6 separate regions of the Homo sapiens genome follow, and all the other regions are reported to be linked to region 1. The links are microRNA targets in miRTarBase. Many come from high-throughput screens and were not tested one by one. Region 1 holds a microRNA gene; each other region holds the end of a gene's coding sequence.

What was found. Region 1 holds the annotated microRNA hsa-miR-203a-3p (GUGAAAUGUUUAGGACCACUAG, at 1,311-1,332, shown strand). A microRNA usually pairs through its seed, bases 2 to 8, with sites in the 3' UTR of a target mRNA and lowers its output. Matches are read on the target gene's strand: a 7mer-m8 pairs with bases 2 to 8, a 7mer-A1 pairs with bases 2 to 7 and ends in A, and an 8mer does both.
Region 2: miRTarBase lists BIRC5 as a target of hsa-miR-203a-3p. Seed matches in the 3' UTR shown: 8mer at 1,725-1,732.
Region 3: miRTarBase lists THRAP3 as a target of hsa-miR-203a-3p. Seed matches in the 3' UTR shown: 7mer-m8 at 969-975.
Region 4: miRTarBase lists TRIM71 as a target of hsa-miR-203a-3p. Seed matches in the 3' UTR shown: 7mer-A1 at 3,617-3,623 and 8mer at 390-397.
Region 5: the mRNA of SPATA13 is a reported target of hsa-miR-203a-3p. Seed matches in the 3' UTR shown: 7mer-m8 at 3,591-3,597.
Region 6: miRTarBase lists BOLA3 as a target of hsa-miR-203a-3p. The part of its 3' UTR that is shown has no 7-base or 8-base seed match.

The regions. Positions count from the first base shown.
Region 1 is chr14:104,116,159-104,120,244 of GRCh38, forward strand. MIR203A (microRNA 203a) reads left to right here and starts at 1,247; the gene lies at 1,247-1,356. It overlaps MIR203B (microRNA 203b), which reads right to left and starts at 1,345; the gene lies at 1,260-1,345.
Region 2 is chr17:78,222,967-78,227,037 of GRCh38, forward strand. It overlaps BIRC5 (baculoviral IAP repeat containing 5), which reads left to right. Exons shown (of 4, transcript NM_001168.3): 4 at 499-2,669. The coding sequence ends at 588. Among named protein-coding and RNA genes, the nearest start is that of TMEM235, 6.6 kb to the right of the region's middle.
Region 3 is chr1:36,303,400-36,307,478 of GRCh38, forward strand. It overlaps THRAP3 (thyroid hormone receptor associated protein 3), which reads left to right. Exons shown (of 12, transcript NM_005119.4): 12 at 397-1,958. The coding sequence ends at 618. It overlaps SH3D21 (SH3 domain containing 21), which reads left to right and starts at 2,969. Exons shown (of 16, transcript NM_001162530.2): 1 at 2,969-3,025; 2 at 3,199-3,356; 3 at 3,443-3,506; 4 at 3,768-3,886. The coding sequence starts at 3,022. RefSeq lists silencers at 3,010-3,059, 3,280-3,719 and enhancers at 3,217-4,017, 3,820-3,869.
Region 4 is chr3:32,891,433-32,895,518 of GRCh38, reverse strand. TRIM71 (tripartite motif containing 71) reads right to left here. Exons shown (of 4, transcript NM_001039111.3): 4 at 1-4,086. The coding sequence ends at 3,708. Among named protein-coding and RNA genes, the nearest start is that of CCR4, 58 kb to the left of the region's middle.
Region 5 is chr13:24,302,473-24,306,558 of GRCh38, forward strand. It overlaps SPATA13 (spermatogenesis associated 13), which reads left to right. Exons shown (of 13, transcript NM_001166271.3): 13 at 126-4,086. The coding sequence ends at 301. Among named protein-coding and RNA genes, the nearest start is that of C1QTNF9, 5.1 kb to the right of the region's middle.
Region 6 is chr2:74,132,148-74,136,218 of GRCh38, forward strand. BOLA3 (bolA family member 3) reads right to left here. Exons shown (of 4, transcript NM_212552.3): 4 at 3,253-3,511. The coding sequence ends at 3,446. It also overlaps a transcript of TET3 not described here. Among named protein-coding and RNA genes, the nearest start is that of BOLA3, 14 kb to the right of the region's middle.

The sequences.
Region 1 (4,086 bases):
GCTGGCTGGGCGGGTGGTGGGATGGCGTGTCACCGCCCTGCACTGGAATGAATGGTCACCACCCTGCTGCCCAACCCCATACAGACACACTAATGGCTCCAGACTTGGGGCAAGTGCTGAAGGGGGCTCTAGGGTATTTCCTAGAGCCTGAGCCCTCCCCTCAGCTGCCATGTTCTGCTGAAGCAGAGTCCCTGGGAGGCGCCACTGGTCAGGCCTGGACACCTCCAGGTGACTAAGTGGGTAGGACCGGCAGGGCCAGCTGCGCCAGGACGTTCGGGGCTGGGCTGTGAGTGGGGGGAGCGAGGCTCAGGCCCTTGCTGCGTGAGGGGGTAGGGCGTCCCTCCCCCCGCGTGGGAAATGAGGAGGCAGGTACGGGGCTACCCCTGTGGGCTGCGGGGTGGGGGTTCAGGGTCTGAGAAGCAGAAACCTCCCTCCCTCCAGTTTCACTTTCTCTTTACCCCTCCCCTTCCCCCTCCCACGAAGTTCCCTTTGAAGTGAGAGGGGCTGGGGTGGGTGTGTCCAGCCCAGCCCCCACACCCACCGGAGAGCTAGCGCGGCCCTGGGCTCCTGTCGGGCGCTGGTCCTCACCTGTTCCGGCCACCCTGGGCCTCGACCCGGCCAAGGTGGAGCCCCGGGCCCTCCGTGCGCCCGAGCACCCCCGGCCCAGACGAGACGGTTCGGGCGTGGCCCGGCGGGGACCCAGAACCCGGGAGGCCAGGTGCGCCCAGGCCAGGCGCTGGAGGCTGGGGCGCCGGATGGGGCGGGGCGGCCGCTGAGTCAGGGCCACCCCCGCGCGGGCGCGCGGAGCAGGTCCCCGGGCCGTGGAGGATCAGTCGCGGGACCTATGGGCCCGGGAGCCGCCCCGCCCGGAAAAACCGGTCGGGCCAGCGCGGCGCGGGCACATTCCGGCGCCGGGAAGGGCGGCTGCGCCGCATAAAAGGCGCCGCCGCGCTGGCCACCGCCGCTCGGAGCTCAGCCGCCCTGCCACGCGGGGCCCGCGGGACGAGGGGACGCCGGGGCCAGCGAGGACGCGGCGGGGCTGGGCTTGGCGGCTGGGATCCCCCAGCGCCAGGCGAGGGCGTCTAAGGCGTCCGGTACGGCGTCGGGGCCGGGTGGCTGCAGCAGGGCAGGGGGTGCGCGACCAGCGGGGATCTGGGCGCAGGGGCCGGTCCCCGGGATCCGCAGGCGACGCGGGCGGTCCCAAGGGCGTCGGGGGCTCCTCTCTCCGCAGCTCGGCGAACCGACGGTGTTGGGGACTCGCGCGCTGGGTCCAGTGGTTCTTAACAGTTCAACAGTTCTGTAGCGCAATTGTGAAATGTTTAGGACCACTAGACCCGGCGGGCGCGGCGACAGCGACGGAGCGTCCCACGCGCGGCCTGGAGTCAGAGTCACAGTCAGGGGTGCGCCGGCGACCAATCCAGGGGAGCCCACGGACCGGCTCCGCGCTCCAGGTCGGCCGCCCCATGCGCCGCGCCCCGCAGTCCCCAGGGCCTGGCTGGCTCCACCTGCTGCCAGGGAAGACCCTCGGCCGGAGAGCCAAGTGCTGCTGGGAGGTGGCCGGGCGTGGCCGGGCTGTGCTGTGGGAACCGCTGGGTGGGGGCGCGCTGGGTTGCCCACGCTCCTGGCGCGCTGCCGGCCTGGAGACGCCGCCGCCGCCCTCTTGCACCCCGAGGGCCCGCACCTCGAAACTCCGTGGAATTCCCAGCGAGGAACTGGCGGTGGGCCCGTAGGGTTGAGGAGCGCTCCTTGCCCTGGGCTTCCTGGGAGCTGCCCATCAGGCTGCCGGCAGCCGCACCCTGCTGGGCGGCCGATGGTTCCCGCTGCCGGCTCCCCGGAGCGTCTCCACTCACTGAGGCCTTAGGGAGCGCTGCGCGGCTCCTACGAGTGCGCGCTAAACTCGTGAAGGACCTCGAGGCACAGGAACTGGGGGTGGGGAGGAAGTTTGCAGACTACACCCAGGTAGAGGAGAAGCGGCGCCCATGATGACAGGTGCCTTCGCCGGAGCCTCCCTGGAACCTCGTGGTAGCTAGCGCCCACAGGAGAGGTGTGCGCGTCAATCTGCGTGTGAAGCCCCGGGCGGCCCTGGGAGGGACTCAGCAAAGGGTCGAATCTGTCCCCACCTCCAGCCAGGGGCCGGGGTCTTCTGCCTGGTGCTGCCTGGCCTGCTGTGTCCTCTGGGGTGGAGGGTCCCCCTCCAGTCCCCACCTCCTCACCCAGTGTTTAGAGAGCTGCGGGGAGTCCTGGGAGATGGGTCAGACAGGCCTGGGTTTGAGGCCTGCTAGGGTGGCCTTGGGCCAGTCACCTGCCCTCTCTGAGCCCGACCTGCACACATAGGGGGTTGATGTGAGGAGACAGGAGGTGACTGTGGAGGGCTGTTCCAGAAGAGGGCCAGCAGCAGGACAGCAAGGTCCCCTGGCCACCCAGGTGGGGGGAGTGGAGTTCCCGGGAGAGCATCCACCACTGGCCAGTGCCTCCTCTGTTGCTCAGCAAATGCCATTGTGGCCACCTCTCAGGATCTGGCTTCAGAGCTTGGGGCCGTGGGAGCGCCCAGTGGGTCTGTGGCATCGGAGGGGTTGGAGTGTCTTCCCCAGCTGCTGCCTGCTGACCACCGCAGCCCCCTGTAGCCATTTCATTTTACAAGCACGTTCCCCCGTGCCCTCTGCATGGGCCCTCAGCCCTCAGCAGCCCCGTGAGAGGGGCTGAGGCTCAGGTGGGAGATGGCGGCTGTGTCCCTGTTCTGCGGCTTGGAGGCATTCTGTCCGGTGTGCGTCTGTACAATTTAGACTGATGACAATAAACATGTTCCAAAGCATCGCTGTGTCCCTGGGGTGCTTGTCCTTTTCCCCCAGGCCTCAGCGTGGTTTCTCCCTTGAAAGCAAGCCAGCCTTTTCCTTCTAATCTCAGAGAAGCAGAAATGAGGATGGTTGGTGGAGGGGCAGTGGCCTGGTCCTTACCCAAGACCCTCCCTCAACTCTGCCTCTGGCACTTTGGTCTCCAGGGAAGCCCCCAGCCTCTGCCACCAGCTTTCTCGTTGCAGTGACCTCCCCTGGGCCACTGGGCCAGACCCCCTCCCTCGGGTTTGAGCTGCACTGCCTCAAGGAGCCAGGCTGGGGAAAGGGCTTGGCTCCCAGGGGCCCCACTTTCAGGGGCTCCAGCCTGCTCCCACTCCCCCCACTCACCACAACACTGCTCCCTTGGCTGGCTCCCACTCATTCCCGCTGGAGCCTGTAGGCTGGCCCTGGGGACCTGGCCAGGAGAATGGGCAAGGTGGGAGGGTTGAGGGATTGAAGAGACAGAGGCACCTTCCTCCACCCTCCCTGCCTCTGGCACAGGGGACCGAGAGTCTGTCGTGCATTCAAACCCCAGCTCTATGCCTACAAGCAAGTGACCTTGGCAAGTCCCTTATCCCCTCGGAGGACCTGTTTCTTCCTTCTGTAGGATGACGTGGAGCTCGCTGGAGGTTCCCCTGACATGATGCAGCACACTTCCTGAGTGCTCAGCAGGGCAGAGCTCAAGCTGTCACTGGAGCTGATGTGGTGGGAGGGCCAGTGGGGGATCCTTGAAGAGGCCGAATTTCAGCCAGGGCCTCGGAGGACCAATGGAAGGCCTCAGGTGGCAATGAGGTGTGGTCTTACAACAGGCCCCTACTTGGTCCCTGGGGACACCAGGAGGACAGGCCCCTACTTTGCTGAGACTAGACCTGTGCTTCCTGGCACCCCAGCCCCTCCACTCCGGCCTCTCCAGCCTCTGCCCCTGACCCAGGTGGAGGATGGCTCCTCGGGGTCCATTCCTTCAGCCATGGAATTCCTGAAGGGAAGCTGGGCACGTGGGGCTCCTGGGCTGCTGGTGGAGACACATGCCACCTCTACACAGGGGAGTGTGAACAGAGGCAGATGCAACTTCTGGGTGGAACTGGGGCACTGTGGTGCTGAGACGTGCCGACTGTGCTGCTGGAGGGCCACGCCGGGGCAGGGCAAAGCATCCCTGCATGAGGCCGACCCACCTGTCCAGGTGTGCCTGCGTGTTTCCTGATTTGGCACCGAAACGTTCTTGGAATCTTCTGAGTCTGGGGCAAACTGGGACTGC
Region 2 (4,071 bases), not on the chromosome of region 1:
TTTCCTCCAGGAGTTTCAGGAGAAAGGTAGGGCAGTGGTTAAGAGCAGAGCTCTGCCTAGACTAGCTGGGGTGCCTAGACTAGCTGGGGTGCCCAGACTAGCTGGGGTGCCTAGACTAGCTGGGTACTTTGAGTGGCTCCTTCAGCCTGGACCTCGGTTTCCTCACCTGTATAGTAGAGATATGGGAGCACCCAGCGCAGGATCACTGTGAACATAAATCAGTTAATGGAGGAAGCAGGTAGAGTGGTGCTGGGTGCATACCAAGCACTCCGTCAGTGTTTCCTGTTATTCGATGATTAGGAGGCAGCTTAAACTAGAGGGAGTTGAGCTGAATCAGGATGTTTGTCCCAGGTAGCTGGGAATCTGCCTAGCCCAGTGCCCAGTTTATTTAGGTGCTCTCTCAGTGTTCCCTGATTGTTTTTTCCTTTGTCATCTTATCTACAGGATGTGACTGGGAAGCTCTGGTTTCAGTGTCATGTGTCTATTCTTTATTTCCAGGCAAAGGAAACCAACAATAAGAAGAAAGAATTTGAGGAAACTGCGGAGAAAGTGCGCCGTGCCATCGAGCAGCTGGCTGCCATGGATTGAGGCCTCTGGCCGGAGCTGCCTGGTCCCAGAGTGGCTGCACCACTTCCAGGGTTTATTCCCTGGTGCCACCAGCCTTCCTGTGGGCCCCTTAGCAATGTCTTAGGAAAGGAGATCAACATTTTCAAATTAGATGTTTCAACTGTGCTCTTGTTTTGTCTTGAAAGTGGCACCAGAGGTGCTTCTGCCTGTGCAGCGGGTGCTGCTGGTAACAGTGGCTGCTTCTCTCTCTCTCTCTCTTTTTTGGGGGCTCATTTTTGCTGTTTTGATTCCCGGGCTTACCAGGTGAGAAGTGAGGGAGGAAGAAGGCAGTGTCCCTTTTGCTAGAGCTGACAGCTTTGTTCGCGTGGGCAGAGCCTTCCACAGTGAATGTGTCTGGACCTCATGTTGTTGAGGCTGTCACAGTCCTGAGTGTGGACTTGGCAGGTGCCTGTTGAATCTGAGCTGCAGGTTCCTTATCTGTCACACCTGTGCCTCCTCAGAGGACAGTTTTTTTGTTGTTGTGTTTTTTTGTTTTTTTTTTTTTGGTAGATGCATGACTTGTGTGTGATGAGAGAATGGAGACAGAGTCCCTGGCTCCTCTACTGTTTAACAACATGGCTTTCTTATTTTGTTTGAATTGTTAATTCACAGAATAGCACAAACTACAATTAAAACTAAGCACAAAGCCATTCTAAGTCATTGGGGAAACGGGGTGAACTTCAGGTGGATGAGGAGACAGAATAGAGTGATAGGAAGCGTCTGGCAGATACTCCTTTTGCCACTGCTGTGTGATTAGACAGGCCCAGTGAGCCGCGGGGCACATGCTGGCCGCTCCTCCCTCAGAAAAAGGCAGTGGCCTAAATCCTTTTTAAATGACTTGGCTCGATGCTGTGGGGGACTGGCTGGGCTGCTGCAGGCCGTGTGTCTGTCAGCCCAACCTTCACATCTGTCACGTTCTCCACACGGGGGAGAGACGCAGTCCGCCCAGGTCCCCGCTTTCTTTGGAGGCAGCAGCTCCCGCAGGGCTGAAGTCTGGCGTAAGATGATGGATTTGATTCGCCCTCCTCCCTGTCATAGAGCTGCAGGGTGGATTGTTACAGCTTCGCTGGAAACCTCTGGAGGTCATCTCGGCTGTTCCTGAGAAATAAAAAGCCTGTCATTTCAAACACTGCTGTGGACCCTACTGGGTTTTTAAAATATTGTCAGTTTTTCATCGTCGTCCCTAGCCTGCCAACAGCCATCTGCCCAGACAGCCGCAGTGAGGATGAGCGTCCTGGCAGAGACGCAGTTGTCTCTGGGCGCTTGCCAGAGCCACGAACCCCAGACCTGTTTGTATCATCCGGGCTCCTTCCGGGCAGAAACAACTGAAAATGCACTTCAGACCCACTTATTTCTGCCACATCTGAGTCGGCCTGAGATAGACTTTTCCCTCTAAACTGGGAGAATATCACAGTGGTTTTTGTTAGCAGAAAATGCACTCCAGCCTCTGTACTCATCTAAGCTGCTTATTTTTGATATTTGTGTCAGTCTGTAAATGGATACTTCACTTTAATAACTGTTGCTTAGTAATTGGCTTTGTAGAGAAGCTGGAAAAAAATGGTTTTGTCTTCAACTCCTTTGCATGCCAGGCGGTGATGTGGATCTCGGCTTCTGTGAGCCTGTGCTGTGGGCAGGGCTGAGCTGGAGCCGCCCCTCTCAGCCCGCCTGCCACGGCCTTTCCTTAAAGGCCATCCTTAAAACCAGACCCTCATGGCTACCAGCACCTGAAAGCTTCCTCGACATCTGTTAATAAAGCCGTAGGCCCTTGTCTAAGTGCAACCGCCTAGACTTTCTTTCAGATACATGTCCACATGTCCATTTTTCAGGTTCTCTAAGTTGGAGTGGAGTCTGGGAAGGGTTGTGAATGAGGCTTCTGGGCTATGGGTGAGGTTCCAATGGCAGGTTAGAGCCCCTCGGGCCAACTGCCATCCTGGAAAGTAGAGACAGCAGTGCCCGCTGCCCAGAAGAGACCAGCAAGCCAAACTGGAGCCCCCATTGCAGGCTGTCGCCATGTGGAAAGAGTAACTCACAATTGCCAATAAAGTCTCATGTGGTTTTATCTACTTTTTTTTTCTTTTTCTTTTTTTTTGAGACAAGGCCTTGCCCTCCCAGGCTGGAGTGCAGTGGAATGACCACAGCTCACCGCAACCTCAAATTCTTGCGTTCAAGTGAACCTCCCACTTTAGCCTCCCAAGTAGCTGGGACTACAGGCGCACGCCATCACACCCGGCTAATTGAAAAATTTTTTTTTTTGTTTAGATGGAATCTCACTTTGTTGCCCAGGCTGGTCTCAAACTCCTGGGCTCAAGTGATCATCCTGCTTCAGCGTCCGACTTGTTGGTATTATAGGCGTGAGCCACTGGGCCTGACCTAGCTACCATTTTTTAATGCAGAAATGAAGACTTGTAGAAATGAAATAACTTGTCCAGGATAGTCGAATAAGTAACTTTTAGAGCTGGGATTTGAACCCAGGCAATCTGGCTCCAGAGCTGGGCCCTCACTGCTGAAGGACACTGTCAGCTTGGGAGGGTGGCTATGGTCGGCTGTCTGATTCTAGGGAGTGAGGGCTGTCTTTAAAGCACCCCATTCCATTTTCAGACAGCTTTGTCAGAAAGGCTGTCATATGGAGCTGACACCTGCCTCCCCAAGGCTTTCATAGATCCTCTCTGTACATTGTAACCTTTTATTTTGAAATGAAAATTCACAGGAAGTTGTAAGGCTAGTACAGGGGATCCCGCATACCGTTCTCCTCCTTTTCCCCGTTGTGAGGACAGTGCACTGTATTCACTTTCAACATCCAAGGTCTGTGTTGAGAGGGTGAGTTGTGCGGCCCAGCTTGCCCCAAGCCCGTCTTGCCATCACGAAGGATTTCCTGACTCAGCTGAATCTAGCTCAACAAAGCAAAGGACTAACTAAGCTGCAGATTTTCTCTCCGCTGGGCTTAGCCTACATTATTTACACCTGTTTTCAGCTGGATGGGACCAAACTGGGGCCTTGACTTCTGGGGTTTCCACGTGATCCCCAAAGAGGAGACATCCATTCATTCACTCAGGTATTTGCTTGTGCACCTACTGTGCGCCAGGTGCCAGATCCAGGAATTGAAGCCCAGGAACAACTCTTGCAGTGAGCTCCCCGGGTTTTTGTTTTCTGAACGGTGGGAAGACAGGTCAGCAAATAGCCATGCACGTCTGCACATGTGTGGCTGGTGTCTGCAGGAGTACCGAGAAGACGGTGAGCTCTGCCCTGGATGGCAACAGGAAAGGGCATCCCTGTGCAGCTGTTTGTCCTGGCACAGGTGGCAGGCTGCCAGCGGGACCAGGAAGGGAAGGGGAGGATGCACAGGTCGGAGGGAACGGAACGGGCACTGCAGGTGCGCTCTGCGATGTGAGGAAGGAAGCAAAGGCTGGTTCCGGGATGATGTCGGAGAAGCCTTGCAGCCTAGGGCACTGCCCATTCCACGTTACC
Region 3 (4,079 bases), not on the chromosome of region 1:
TTAAGCACGTTTGCAGAGTGGGAGGTGATAATGATAGGGTAGATAGGAGAATTAAATGAGATAGTACATAAATGTCTTACTTCAGTGCTCAGTGACGTTTTTATTTTCTTTAAACTATTAAGGGTTCTTGCTCAGTGAATCATCATCATTGTCAATCATCGTTACAATGCCCAAGCTGTTACCTTAAAATTCCTAAATCACCCAACTGATATTCTCATGGATCTGAACCACTGGCATTTTTGGAGTGGGGGACAGGGAGAAGTGCAGAAAAGGATCAAAAGGCTGGGTTAGGGCACAGGTTCTTTTGGGAAAGGCACATTTGGGTGCGTGCAGAGAAGAGAGCTCTGGCCACATCTTGTTCACTCTGGCACTGATGGCAATTTTCTTTCCCCTCAGCATGATGACCGTGAAGGCGAAGGCAGTGACAAGTGGGTGAGCCGGGGCCGGGGCCGAGGAGCCTTTCCTCGGGGTCGGGGCCGGTTCATGTTCCGGAAATCAAGTACCAGCCCCAAGTGGGCCCATGACAAGTTCAGTGGGGAGGAAGGGGAGATTGAAGACGACGAGAGTGGGACAGAGAACCGAGAAGAGAAGGACAATATACAGCCCACAACCGAGTAGGGGCCACCCTTGACGGGATTCCTGCCCAGGGGAGAGAGGCGCTGGGAAGATGGCTGGTGAGGAGCTTAACAGAGGAACCTCAAGAAGATTCTGAAAATCCTACCCCCACCCCCCACCAGCCGCACAGATTGTACTACCGCGAGAGGCATCCCTGGCGCTGTCTCCCACTGGACAGAGGAGGCTGGCCATGGGGCCCAGGGGTCAGGCCCAGCTTTTGAGCAGAATACAACGCATTGGGCTTTAGCTGTTTTTCTCATTTGTTGGTGTGTGGGGTGGGGGCAGGGGTAGGGCGGGAGAGCGATGCTTGGATTTTTGTTTCCTATTAGAAACCAACAGTTTTGTTCTAATTTCATTTCATTTGGAGCTAAGATGACTAATTTGATGATTTTCGATCTCTTTTCCCCTGTCCTGATTTTAAAAGCCCCCTCCTTTTTTTTTTTTTTTTTCTTTTTTTAGGCATATGTAGTAATATTAGAAACATTTAATTTGGGAAACTTTGATTCTTGAAAGAGAAAACAAAAGCATGTGAATAAACTTTGAAGTGTTCACCTCAGTTTGGGACCAAACTGCTTGGATCTTTGTAAAAACCGGTTTTGTATGTCAAGGAGGAGTTTAAGGCCTTTCCGACCACCTTGTGTTCCCCTTTTCTGCGCAGCCATGTATCACGTGGAGTTGCTCCTTACCACACCTCACGTGCCCCTGAGCCCTATTTCCTGATTTCTTCTGGGCTGGACTTCCCCGTTCTCCACCAGCAGCTCCAGTATCCCAAACTTTCTAGTCCTGCTGATCCTCCCAGCAACGGGGTGGAAACTGGAGGGCAGTGTCTGGTCTGTTTTCTAAGAAACTTATGAATTCTATTATCTTTACAAATATGAGAAAATTTTTTCAATATTTTTTATTAATCTTTTTATAAAATGAAAAGAAACTCCTATGATCGATTAAGGAAGGTGGTTATGGCTGGGTGGTTCAGGGGTTTTTTTGGGTTTCTTTTTTTTTTTCTTTGTCTTTTTAACCTTAAGCTGTTTAAGTTGAAGCATTCTCAGATGTTTGGGGGGAAACATCCTCTTAAAATGGGTCCTTGTGCTTGCCTTCTGGGGAGGCGGTCCTGAGCAGGTGAATCATAAGGCATTTATGCATATGTTATATGCGGACTGCACCCACCTCTCCCCCCCAGCCTTTGCCTCTTGCGTTGTTGTGCTGCTTTCCCCTTACTTTGCTACATTTCTATAGTTAAGTTGGTTTTACTTGAATGATTCATGTTTAGGGGGAAAATGAAAATCTCCCTTAAAATTTGTTTCAACTCCTCCTGCAAATAAAATAAATGAAGTGGCAGATGTAAACGGGTTCTGTTCATTGTCATCCTGAGTGTGTGTGTGTGTTGAGGGTGGTAGATAACTTCCCACGGCAGTTTCAGAAAACCTGAAAGACAAAGGGCCTGTGGGGCCTTGCGCAGGCTGCTGGAGTCCCAGACAGACACAGTCCTTCCTGGGAGGAGCATTGTGTACCTTGGACACCCCAGGAGAAACAGATTTTTTCCACTGGTGTCATAGGCAAGGACTTTGGCTTCCTTCATCATGGTGGTGGGGCAGGGATCAAGGGATGTGGTTAGTAGGCTCAGCCTTCTACCTGAAAGAGCCTATCCCACATGGACTGGCCATAGGGTGGGCCCTAACCTTCAGACTCCTGCCGGCTGGGGACTCAACTGTGAGCAGAAATCTTGGAAGCTGGTAAAATTCATTCTCCCGGCCTAACTCCCAGGGAAAACCTGGAGGTGTTTTCTGAAACCAAACTAGACCTCTGGCCCCAAAGCAGGGGTCTTTGCTGTGTCCTTCCTATATGGGGGTAGAGAGTGGGTACGGGGCCAGAGAGGAGTACGCCTTGAAGGAAAGCAGACTGGAAGTGTCCACTCAAAGCTATTGCTGGTACAAGGGCAGCCACTTCATTCACTCAAGGCCGGTTTAGAGCGGTTGCTACTTGCTGGGGGGCCCCACCCTGGTATGTGCCTCTCCCCACCTTTTCCCCTCAAGCCAAAAGCTTGTGAGCTGGGGAAGGGTGGGCCTGGAAAGGCTCTGTGCAAATTGTAGCTGGGAGCCTCCGGGCAAAAGCTGAGGGAAAGGGAGAGGCGGCTGGCCTAAAATTTAGGTGGGCGGAAGAACCTGTGACGGAGCTGTGACCGCTGCACAGGCCAGAGACCCTGGAGTCCTCCTCACCCCGGGGTTGGGGGCCGGACCTGCTGAGCCGGGCCGCCCCCTCTCCACACCCACTCCCAGCACCTGGCCCGACCTATCGGCTGGCGGCTACGCCTCCTTTACCCTACTGTCTTGCCTCAGGTCGCACCCTGCGCGGGCCCAGTACTCGGCCGTCAGAGGGAGCTGCCAGGCTCTGGAGGGCGCCCCGGAAACCATGGGTAAGTGCGGAGGCTTTGAGGTGGCCTCTCTCTGCAACCGTGGACATAGCAAGAGCCCACACCACCCCCCGACCCCCGCTGCCCTCTACGGTGCTTGGGGACACGCCCGCCCTAGCCAGGCTGCCCGGCTGGGCCTTTCTGAGCCGCACGCCGGCCCCGTCTTCCGCCCGCAGAAGTCCTCGTCCTGGCCGGATACCGCGCGCAGAAGGAGGACGAGCTGAGTCTGGCGCCCGGGGACGTGGTCCGGCAGGTGCGCTGGGTGCCCGCGCGGGGCTGGCTTCGCGGAGAGTTTGGGGGCCGCTATGGCCTCTTCCCCGAGCGCCTGGTGCAGGTGAGGCCGAGCCAGGGGCGGGCTGTGGGGTCTCAGCGCGCGCCCCCCGGGAGCTGAGAGCGCCTTCCCCGTGCCCTGATTCCCAGGAGATCCCAGAGACCCTGCGGGGCTCCGGAGAGGCGCGGAGGCCGCGCTGTGCGCGCCGCCGAGGTGAGCGCAAGGGCGGGGACGGGCGCCGGTGGGCGGGTGCACGGAGCCAGTGCGACCCCGGCGTCTCCGGCTCTTAGTGACGGGCGCGGCTCTGGGCGGGACCTCGGGGCCGCCCTGCGGTCTGTGATTGGTTCTCGAGTGCAATGCTCCGCCCTGGGGCGGGGCTGGAGGGACCAAAGGCTACGTGCGCGCCTTGCGCTTCCCCCAGCTCCTCTGACTGGGGCGTCCGACTGGAGCTCAGCCGCGCTTGTCCGGTGCTAGGTCATCCTGCCAAACACCCGAGGCCCCAAAGATGGTGCAAAGTGAACTTCAGCTACAGCCCAGAGCAGGCGGACGAGCTGAAGCTGCAAGCTGGGGAGATCGTGGAAATGATAAAGGAGGTGAGGGGTGAGGTGATGGGACCGTTTGGGGGAGGATGATGGAACGCGCCTCCCTAGTGAGCGGGGTGGGAAGTGAGGGTGTGGACGGTGGGAATGGCGACGGTGCAGATACGGGGAAGCGCGGGAGGGAAGGAGGGAGGAAGGGGCGCTTGGGCAGAACCAAGGGTGGCAGATTATCCTAGGGACTCTTGGG
Region 4 (4,086 bases), not on the chromosome of region 1:
TCGTAGAATCTTCCAACGAGGAAGGTAACACATATATAAACAGTATTTTGCTGCTTCAAGCCTAAAAGACTTTCCTCCTCAAATAATTAAGCTTTGGCTTAACTAGAATAAATCAGACTGAGCCGATCTCAAGCTATCTCTTGCAACTCCATCACAAAGTGCCTCAGTTCTGGCAACATTTTTGGCCCAACACGTAATTTGGATTCGGTTTATGGTACCCTTTGTTATGTGTTTCCCAAATAAGTTAGACTTAAAAGGGCATTGAGGAGTTAGTGCACTTGGGGTACAACCCAGGTCACTGTGCTCTAGTCAACTTGAGTGCCACTTGCAGCCACAACAGGGCACATGTTCTGAGACAGCATTAGATCTTGGGACCAAAAATAACACTTTTGAAATGTTAAGTCAGTGTCAAGCAAAAGTAGTTTTTACCTATGGGTTAGATGTCCTTTAAACATCTCAATACTCAAACCTATATATCCAAACCCAATGGGCATCTCCACACATAAACTGAGCTTACATCATACCCCACCCAACCCTTGCCACCTGACCAGATCAGACCTCCATGGGGACTAGTAATTGTCATACTTACTCCCCAGAAACCTTTTTATTCTCCTACCTCATAATACCCAGGACCTTATTTTTTCCATCAGGATGACGACTCCCTTCTTTGACCCAACTCCTGGCTACCTGGCATTACCCGGGCAGGAGATTATGCATTTAAACACAGGTACTTTTCACAGTTTCACACTAGGGACTGCCAAATGTTGGCTTTTATCATCTTTCTTTGATTTAGAACATTTCACATCATACAATAAACACTCTCCAAAGTGCTTCGCACCAATCCCTATGGGTCAGGAGTCAACCACGGGCAGGAAAAACCGCCAATGTTTTAAAAACAAAAGCTTTCCAAATGTGACCATGTTTCTCAAATACCAGTCATGCACCATTTTGGGTACAGAAAGGTAAGGAGATAGATATACCACCACTGAGGACAAAGAGGTAGTATCTCTGACCTACACACCTATTTCAGGGGATAGTTCTAGTTGCTCTAAGCCTGCAAATTTACAAGTCTGTAAATTAAGACCTGATAATTTCAGCCATGGAGCGAAAATCTTGGCTTTTCGATCACATCCATAGTAAAATGTCAAATAAGGAGCTCTAGTTACTGTTATGCACCAAGAACATTTCTCATTCAGGTCCCAAAATTTTCCTACATCTGGGGAAATTAGAAAGAAAAGAGCAGAATGAAAATGATGATGAAAAGATTTTAATCAAGATCCATCTCCTCAATAAAATTTTTTTCAAGCATTTAAAACCAGTTGTCTTTGGTGTTTAAAGGGTGGCTTGTTGGGCAGCTGGGGAAAGGGAAGGAAGATCAGCACCAAGTTACTCCAAAATAGAAAACAGTAAAAATGTTTAATTATATTAACTCTTTACCAAAGAACTTAGAGCTTAACGGCCAAAAGGCAACTGAATAGGCATTGGGGAAGGATTCACTATTAAATTCTACAGTAAAAGGAGCTTCTAACAAACAACATTTCCTAACACCTTCCCACCCTGTAACAGCAGCTGGGAGCCAGCAGCAGTTTGAAGCTACTTTCCAACTTTTGAATCTTTTATTGCATGCAGTTCTCCTCTGTGAGATGAGGTTTTTTTTTTCCTTCCCATTTTGGTCACTCAGAAACCCTAGAATTAAAGCAATGGGAAGAGACAGAGTAGCTTGTAGTAGTAGTAAATTAAACGTCCAAAAGAGGTGTACGGGAAAAGCAACTTGATTGACTTGTCACACTGTCCCCATCATCTCCTTTTCTATTGGGATAACAGAAACAAATTGCTCCATTTGTTAATCTGTTCTGCTCATTTAAAACGATACCCATTTTGCAATAGAAATTTCTCTTAAACAGAGGAACAGAAGTTGATCCATAAGTCTTTAAACAAGAGGTCTCCCTTGTAAGTCACTGACGTTTGTTTGAGAGTCCCTCTTTTCCCTGAGGAGGGCTCCTCCAGAATTTGGTTCTTATTTCAGTATTTGGGGCATTGCAGGAACCCACTGGGTTCTGACAAGCAGGGTATCAGCTACATCTGCTTTGCACTTGAAAGACAGACAATGCCCAGAAGCACAAGTTTTGTACCCAAGTCCAGCTTACAACCAACCAATCCTGTAAAGTGACACAGATTCTACCCCACAGTTCTGCAGTGGGAGCCTTAAATTTTCATTCTTTGGTACCGAGTTACAGGTTTAAGAAAAGACATTACATCCTACATTTCAGGTTGGGACAATTTGGTTTCTAGATCCTTTATGGTCAAAGGCCTTGGGGGGAGAGGGGGCGGGGGGATTCATGTTAACCATGAGGTCCTAAAGCATGGCCTGGGTGCAAACAATCCTATAAAAAGTGACCCAAGCAGAGGGTGTGGGACTGGGCTGTTGGTATTAATTTGACTTTCAAACCTTCTATTTCCCTGAACTTTCAAAGCAGGAAAAAATTGTGCTTGTAAAATAAAAGTTCTTTCCTTTGCCTACTCTTCTTAGGAAAAGAAACCCCTAGCACTACAGAACAACATGCACTCGCGGGTCAGGGCAGACCCTGCCCTTTCTGTGGAGTTCCTATAGTTTGGGGGTGCCTTGTTCTTTAATGTGCTCCCTGACTCCCTCAGCACACGCATGTCCACCCACATTCATGTCCACGTCAGCCCATGCCTGAAAACCCTCTCTCTGAGAACGAGGTTAATTTCCTTTTTCCTTCCATTTAACCCTTTATAACCTAACAGCAAAATAAGAAAGCATAACTTTTGAGAATATGTTTAATCAAAAATCCTGAGCTACCATCTATATACTTTTTTAAGAAACCAAAGTGTGAAAAGGAGAGGTTCTTTGGGAGGCAGTGTGTCATTTTCAGCTTTACTACTTGGGTGCAAGATGGCTTTGAAACAAACATGCACACACCCTCCCTTAAAAGAAACAAAGATTATATACCCTAAAATATGAAGGGTCTGCTTTTCTTGGCTAGCAAGCCACAGCCACAACGTCTAAGATCAAGAAACGATGCAGAAGAGGATGTTAAACACACTGAGGTATAAACAGAGAACAGAGGAAATTTCTCTGTTGCAGCATTTAAAAAGAGAAGATTTTCCAAAAAGATCAAAACAACACAACATAATCTAAACCCCATATAAACAGTATTCTCAAGAACACAGGTATTCTATAATTATGCATTTCAAATCCTATTTTTTCCATGTTTTATAGTTTTTTGTTTTTTTACTTAGTAGTTTTTTTTTGTGTTTCCTTGGCTCAATCTACAGAATACACCCCACCACACACATCCAGTGCCCTCCCAGCCATACAGATGCCAGGCTTGTGCATATCATGCCCCACGCAGGGGAAGAGGGAAATGCAAACTCCACTGAGGAGGGGAAGAGGGCCTGTTGCAGAAGGAAATGTAAAGATTTATGAGGTAGATAGAAATTATCACTTCACAGGCTCAATCCCTGCAGAAAAGATAAGTACATTCATCTGTAAAAAAATAAAGATGAGGTAGGACTTAAGCAATGTTGTACTTTTCTTGTTCTCTTTAAAAAAAAAAAAGAAAAAAGAAATTTCCCTGAGACTGTTTCTTCTTTGAAATTCAAAAAGAGAGAGAAAGAGAAAGAGAGAGAGAGAGAGAGAGACACGCACACACACCCCAAACACAGAAACCTAGGAAATGCAATTAGAAGACGAGGATTCGATTGTTGCCAAAGTCCACCACAACGATCATTCCGTCGGGGGTGATGGCGATGCCGGAAGGGCGGTCCATCTGCCCAAAGCCGCTGCCTTGAGCACCAAACTTGCACAGGAAGCTGCCGTTGGATTCAAACATCTGTACCCGATGGTTCCTGGAATCCGCCACAATGATGCGCCCTTCCTGGTCCACAGCTACCCCTTGTGGGCGCAGGAACTGCCCATTGCCTGTGCCCTCCGAGCCCAGAAAGCGTGCCGACTGGCAGTCGGGGTGAATAACCAGGAGCCGGTGGTTGTTGAAGTCAGTGACCACCAAGTGGCCCTCATGGTTGAAGGCCACACCCCGTGGGGAGTCAAAGTGCTTCCAG
Region 5 (4,086 bases), not on the chromosome of region 1:
AAAAAAAAAAAAAAAAAGAATTAGCTGAGAACTTGGACTTGGAGTCTCAGCATTTTTATTTTTTTCCTTTCTGGTTAACAAGCGACCCTCAGTCCCTGTTCCATCTCTCTCCCCTCCCGAGTCAGGCTACAACAGGTGCCCTGTGGCCCCACCGCACCAGGGCCTGCACCCCATCCACCAGCGCCACATCACTATGCCCACAAGCGTCCCCCAGCAGCAGGTCTTTGGCCTGGCGGAACCCAAGAGGAAGTCCTCGCTCTTCTGGCACACCTTCAACAGGCTCACCCCCTTCCGGAAATGAAAACAGGAGGCTGTGCTTCCATGGAGCTGGGTGTCAAGAGAAGAACTGTCTTTGTTTCTTGTGTGCTTCAATCCAGGGAAAGTTTCTTGGACCCAGTGATAAAAACTTCCTTTTAGGGATCAATGAAGGAGAGAAGGTCTTGGAATCACCTTCAGTCTTTGGAGACCCAGCTGCCTTTGTGGAAGGGAGGAGACGGTCATGACACAAAGCTTTATCCTACACAGAAACACCCGTGACCCACTATGAGATGGCCCAGATGTGGGACCCGGTACCATGCTCTAAAGCGAGTGATTAGGCAGCAGCTGAAGCCACCCCTGCTGATGATGAGCAAGTGCCTGCTGCAGGTCCAAACACAGCATCCAGGGCTTTGCAGTTCCTAAGGAGTGATGAGGTTAGAGGATCACTTCTGCATTTGATTTTCAAGGATGCCGTCAAGACGGGGTTGACACAATGCTGCACGTGTCTGGTCACACTTAGAAATTGAGCTCTTACTCTCTTCTGTAATACTGGGGGACCTACAGCTGCCGTGGGGCTGACCACGGTGTTCCCTGGCATCGTCTGTGTCCACACAGATGCTAACTGGTAGTGCAAATGTCATCCTGCAAGGTTCCTCTTCCTGCAAGCAAAGTGGAGAGAAAGAAGATGCATCTGTCACCTTCATCAGGGTCCTCAGTGCAGAGCAACTTACGCATCCTCAAGAATCCACTGCTTTTCAGGCAAGGAGGGAGAAATCCTGCTGCACACTGGCTTTGTCCCGGAGTCGGATTCCCTCCTGCCTGCACGCCTTCAGTAACTCCGAGCAGAAATCACATCTTGCCCACATGCTGTAACCTAAGAAACTGCTATGCAAGGCTGGGTGCTGTGGCTCATGCCTGTAATCCCAGCACTTTGGGAGGCCAAGGCAGGTGGATCACCTGAGGTCAGGAGTTCGAGACAAGCGTGGCCAATATGGCAAAGCCCAGTCTCTACTAATAATACAAAAATTAGCTGGGCATGGTGGCGCATGCCTGTAATCCCAGCTACTGGGAAGGCTGAGGTAGGAGAATCTTTTGAATCTGGGAAGCGGAGGTTGCAGTGAGCTGAGATCGCACCACTGCACTCCAGCCTGGGAGATACAGCGAGACTGTCTCCAAAAACAAAAACAAAAACAAAAAACATTCAAACAACTGTTTGCAATATAAAAAGCTCATTTACTGTAATATTTATGATACAGTGAATATGAAAATGCACTGGTCAGAAGGCACTCTCAAAGAGCCGCACTGCTCCTGACATCGTCCTTAGCAATGAAGTCACAAAGACAGCCAAAGCAGTCCTGCTTCTTGGAAATCAGAAGCTGCCTTTATCACATATAAAGCCAAACAGGGCATAACCATGTCACGTGAGCATGTCATCAGGCTTCTGAGGACTTGTTCTTTATAAAAAAAGACCTTCACAAAATATCTTGGCTTAGAGATAGCAGTCTTTATTAACAAAGGCCACCTAGGCTGACACCTGCAGATAATCATCTCCTTTTCTTTGTCTATGTTGTACATTTTCATGATATAACTTTTAACTATGTCTAGAGAAGGCAGGCTCTGCAAGAGAGGTGCCCTTTCAACCCGCTCAGTGCCCTGGACAGGAGATGCTGTGTTAAACTGTTAATGGATATCTATATGAGAAGCTCATTTTTGTATGCTATCCCTGCAGTTTTTTTTTTTCTAACAGGCCCATGTTTGAGAATAAACAAGTCTGTGATGTCAGAGACAAAGGTGTATTCTTCAGTCTGCAGGTGTGTGGCACCTCCCTTCTCCCCTGCAGCCCCCCACATCCAGAGCCGTTCCTGAGAGTGACATCATGCATCAAGAAAACATAACCTTGGTCCTCAGGTGAACCCTTGGAACATTCTGTGACCGCCTGATGTCCATTCTGAGCCACCTTGGCACACATGCTTACAGGCAGCACTGCTAAGGGTTCAGGTGCCCCATGGCTGACAGCCCGAGTTGCTTCTGTGGACCATCATGCCGCTCGGCACGTCCTGAGACAGAAGTTGCTGCAGGAAGGAGCTTCTGGAGAGGTCCTGTGGCATGTGTGGGGGTGTGTGTGTGTATGTTTCCTTCTTGAACAGACATTCCAACTTTAGATGTGTTTATAGAACTGACCTTTTTACTAACAAAATACAATGATATATGTTGGAAACTACTTAATATGCTTTTCCTGCACACCTTAGCAATAACTGTAGGGGTCTCTGCTAGAGTTGTTTGTATGTACAGCAATTTTGAACAAATTGTTTTAAATGTAATATAAGAGAATTAGTTTAAGGAAGTAAAGAGAATCATTTGCTTGTGTTACATTTTCAGTGAGGATTCAGTTTAAGAGTCATTCTTAGGACTTCCATTTCCTAATATTTATTCATGGGTAATGAAGAAATGGTTTGCATTTTGTGGCCAGTCCTAATTTATTTTCCAGCTGAGCCCTAACTTCCGGCTCCCACCTACCTCCACGGACTTCCTAACAGAGACTTATGAATACCAGGATGTGTTTTTGTTAAGTCAGGTTCAATTCGTTGCCCCTGTCAGTTTTATAGAGTGTGAGGGTCACTCCATTAAAGATCTCTCCTGGGTGGATCCTACTTGGATGTTCAGGTGATTTTGAAAACTGCTAACATTTTTAAAAGGCTAGAACATCCTTTGACTTCTTGAAAATCTGCATGTCTGGCTTGGGTTTTATTACCACATGCCTGAGTTCTTCAAGAATGGAAGGCTCAAGTATTCTCATCTTCCATTTGCCAAACTTCCTTCCTGATTTGAGTCACGTGTTCCACTTGGAAAGAAAGGGAACAGAGAGCCTCCTCCATGGACAGTGTATGAATTTCATTGGGAATCTTGCTCTCTCCCGCCTCTATGCCTTTCTCTCTTTTTAACCTTACTTTACATAATATTATAGATGGGCCAAGAAAAGAAAAGATGACATAACATTTTGATGAATTTCACCTATTCCATTCTTCACGTTTCAGAATTGGTCGACTTTGTTAGAAGATAATTGAAGTAGCCTTGGGTCAAAAGCAACCTTTTCAATTGTGATCATACCTAAAACATATAAAAACCCTGCCGTAGATTAAAAGCAATTATAAAATCATAAAATTGAATGTTTGCAGAATCCTGGAGCAGTAGATTTCTTTGTCTTTGGCCTGCGGACTAGAAAGAGGGCAGCAGTAGTATGCTGGAGCTTCCCTGGGATACCAGCCACATGGTTTCTTTTCATTAGATCTGATTTTTGTTTCCCACTGTAGATCTGATTTTGTAGTTGAAAACATTTCACCACCATCAAACACTATTTCTGAATATTGTGCCTTTTTATACCTAGCCTAGATGAAAACCGATGCCATTCTTATTCAGAAAATCCCCCCATCCTACATGACTGTTATCTAGACATAAAGCAAAGTGCATTTAATTCAAAATTTGGTTCACAATATAAGTATTTTGTAAAAGCCAGCTGAACCAGCATTTTATCAGGTGGAAATCTCTGCAAGCCAAATTGCTGATACTCCTTCATGCAGATCAACTTGGTGTCCCAGTCAGAATAGAACAGCATAATTACCTGGAGTTAGGGGGAGTATTTCTGCACTATTACTTGTCAGGGAGAGAAGAAACTTAGAATTGTCCCTCAAAGGAGTGTCAAGAAGTATGAATAAATGTCCTTTCACCAGCTCACAGGCCAGAAATGGAGGACCCAAGTCAACTAGGTGAAACTACTAGCAGACCCAGCTTTCCCATAATAACCTAATCTGCAAATTGTTCTATTAAAGT
Region 6 (4,071 bases), not on the chromosome of region 1:
TCTTCTTTTGGTAACGCCTTCTCTCTCCACTTCAAGCCAGAGTCCAGCTAGAGGCTGCAATTTTATATGCCCCCTGGACCCCACCTGGTTAGTCCAGGTGGCTCCTAATTCAAGATGAGCCAATCAGAGCCCTTCCTGGGAACTCCAAAAGAAAGTTTGCTCTTACAACGCGTTAGGCCAGGTGGCTCCTAATTCAAGATGAGCCAAACAGAGGCCGTCCTGGGGACTTGAAAACAAAGTCTGCTCTTCCCACGGCCTGAACAGGACCTCACTGTGTGCCATCCAGGCTGAGTGCAATGACACAATCACAGCTTACTGCAGCCTCAAACTCCTGGGCTCAAGTGATCCTGCTGCCTCAGCCTCCAGAGTTGCTAGGGCTACAGGTGCATGTCACCACAACTGGCATTTTTTTAATTTTTTGTAGAAACAGTGTCTTACTTGTTGCCCAGGCTGGTCACAAACTCCTTGGCTCAAGCAATTCTCCCATCTCTGCCTCCCAAAGTGTTGGGATTACAGATGTGAGCCACCACATCTGGCTGAACTGGACATTAAAATATATAAATTAAGAGGTACTGGCATTCAAGTCACCACTGTATGGCAGATGCCAATCTAGAGTGAGAGATAATAAAGCTGATCTGTAGAGAGGAAGGGACAGCAGATGAAGGGGAGACCCAGTGGCACTGGTGTTCCTGACTCTTAGCTGGACCCGTGTCCTTTCTGCAATTTGGCTCTTTTTCTTTTCTTTTTTTTTGTTCTTTTTTTCTTTTTGATACGGAGTCTGGCTCTGTCATCCAGGCTGGAGTGCAGTAGCGTGATCTTGGCTCACTGAAGCCTCTGCTTCCCAGGTTCGAGAGATTCTCCTGCCTCAGCCTCCCGAGTAGCTGGGACTACAGGCATGTGCCACTATGCCTGGCTAATTTTTGTATTTTTTTTTTTTTTTTTTTTTAGTTGAGACAAGGTTTCACCATGTTGGCCAGGCTGGTCTTGAACTCCTGACCTCAAGTGATCCACCCACCTCAGCCTCCCAAAGTGCTGGGATTACGCGCGTGAGCCACCGTGCCCAGCCCGAAGTTTGGCTCTTCAACCCGTCTGTCAATAAGTGAGAGTCCCCCGTGTTCCTTCAGTAATGAACAAACATATTAATTATCAATTGCTGCATAAAAATGTAACCCCAAACACTGGCTTAAAACAACAAACACATATATGTATTTCACAGTTTCTCTTGGTCAGAAATTGGGGAGTGGCTCAGCTGAGTGGCTGTGGCTCAACCTGCAGTCAGGATGCCAGCTGGGGCTGCAATCTTCTGATGGCTTGACTGTGGCTGAAGGATCCACTTCCAAGGTGGCTCACCCACATGGCTCTTGTCCTGGCAGAAGGCCTCATTCTGTGCTGACTGTTGGCAGGTCTGTTTGACTGGCTGTTGGTAAAAGGCCTCAGTTTCTCACCACATGGACCTCTCTGTAGGCTGCTTGTGTGTCCTCACAACATGGCTGCCTTCCCTCAGAGCAAACAATCCAAGGGAGAGAGCAAGGAGAAAGCCACTGTGCCCTACATGATGTATTCTCTGAAACTGCAGGTCACTTTCACTTTATTCTGTTTTTTTGTTTGTTTTTTTGAGACGGAGTCTTGCTCTGTCTCCCAGGCTGGAGTGCAGTGGCACAATCTTGGTTCACTGCAACTTCTGCCTCCCGGGTTCAAGCGATTCTCCTGCCTCAGCCTCCTGAGTAGCTGGGATTACAGGCGCGTGCCATCATGCCTGGCTAATTTTTGTATTTTCAGTAGAGACGGGGTTTCACCATGTTGGTCAGGCTGGTCTCAAACTCCTGACCTTGTGATCCCCCCCCCTCGGCCTCTCAAAGTGCCAGGATTACAGGTGTGAGCCACCACGCCTGGCCTATTCTGTTCTTTAGAAGATCACCATATTGAGCCCACTCTTAAGAGAAAGACAAATAGGTTCCACGCAGGGAATCAGTGTGTCTAATTTTGAGGTCTCTCCATTCTCACTGACCACTGCCGTCCTGCTGGCCTCTGGGATTCCAAGCTTGGGTGTTTCCTCACCGTATCACCTGAAAGCCGTCCCTGGGGTGTCTAGCTGTTTCAGAGGTGGCTCGGGCCTTCAGGCACAGTTCTCTGTTTTGTCCCAACCTTCTCAGCTCTGATACAACTGAGTGATTCTACTGCTTGTAAGAGGCAGTTCTGCCCTGGCAGGTACCAATCCTTCCCAACCCCACTGTGCAGATAGAGAATATTTTAAAATTACAAAACGGGGGCACAATGTATGAACAGAATATTTGAAATTTTTTTCTGCCCTCAAAAATCTGGGGCCCAAGGTTGTTATATCTTCATGTCCTCATTTCTTAGGGAGGTACCTTCAGAACCAATAGTGACCCCTAACTTCTCTGGTGGTCGGTTCCATGAAAGGCAAAGGAGTGTGAGAGAGGAGTGGATGGTCAACCTCCCACTGCCATGGTAACATGGGTGCTGGCTGATGGGAGCAGAAAATAATTTAGTGAAAGTCTGTGGGGGCAGTCACAAGATGTCTGAGAAAACTGGCGAGCCAGCTGCTGAAAACAGGGACAAGGAAGCCTCCGTGGCTGGAGCCCAAATCACACTGCAGACCCAGACACCGTGACCACCACCATGGACTCCAGAGAGAGCAGCTTATAGTACTCAATCAGCTGCCACTACCACCATCCAGAACACCAGATGTTGTAGCCATGGCTGCAGCAGGAATGGATGTCCCACTGTCCCTGCTCCTCGGTGTGACTTGCTCCCAAGTTCAGGGCAGGTCCATCTGATTGGCTGAGTCTGGAATATCTGCCTGTGCCTCAGCTGTGAGGGAGGCAGGGAAAGTAAGCCTTTTCAGCTTCTGTCGTGGGAGGTGGGCTCTGCCTCCTACCAAGAATCAAAGGGTGGAGGATCTTCAAACACAGGAAAAGAACCCGGATCCTGGCACCCCCAAATTTTCAGAGTCCATTTCAGAGCATAAGAAATTGAGGGTCCAAGATCATTCATGTAAGAAGTTTAGAGGGGGAAGAAAAGAATGATAAACGAAAAGAACAGCAATAGTAAAGGATCTTTTCTTTGTTTCAGTAAGATGAAGAGGCCTGAGCAGTTTCGTGGAGGGGAAGAAACAGGAAAACCTCTTCAAAAGACAAAAAGCTGGCACTGCATTCTCTCTCTGTAGCAGGACAGAACTGTCTAAAGACAAGACCCCTTTGGCCAAAATAAAGGAACCTGAAACATTACTAATGACCCTTCAAAAGCTTCAGTTGTTTGTTTCCTTTAATTAACATCTAAATAGATTATACATCTTCTATAATTATAATATGGAAATGTATATGAGCAAAATATATAAATTTTTTGGTGACTGCTTAGGGAAGAATGATGTCAGTGAAGTTCATCCAAGGTCTTAAGCAGCAGCATCTATGCAGCCAGGGCGTGGTCAGCGTTTGGGGACAGAGGTAAATATCCGCAATCCATGCATCTCTTTGATTTCTTCTTTTAGTGCCTAAGTAAGAAAACAGCATCATCAGTTTTTGTGTATTTGACGTTGATTACAGTAATTCTCTGAGAGTATTTTTATACAGCTCTGCATCTGAAGGAGACTTTGTATGTGCTTTGTTTAAGCAATTTTTCCTTTTTTTGAAAAACAATTTTTTTTAAATCAATAATATCTAACATGATTTAAAGATTCAAAGGTACAAAAAGGCATTCAGGGAAGTCTCCCTCCTATACCTGTCCATCTCCCCAGTTTCCACCCTTGTTCCCAAAAGAACTGTTGTTAGTTTCTTGTGTATCTTTTTTTTTTTTTTTTTTTAAGTCATGGTCTCGCTCTAGCGCCGAAGTTGGAGTGCAGTGGCGCGATATCGGCTTACTGCAAACTCCACCTCCTGGGCTCAAACAATCTTCCTGCTTCAGCCTCCCTAGTAGCTGGGACTACAGGCACATGCCACCATGCCTGGCTAATTTTTTTATTTTTTGTAGAGGCAGGGTCTCACTATATTGCCTAGGCTGGTCTTGAACTCCTGGACTGGAGCAATCTGCCTGTCTTGGCTTCCCAAAGTGCCG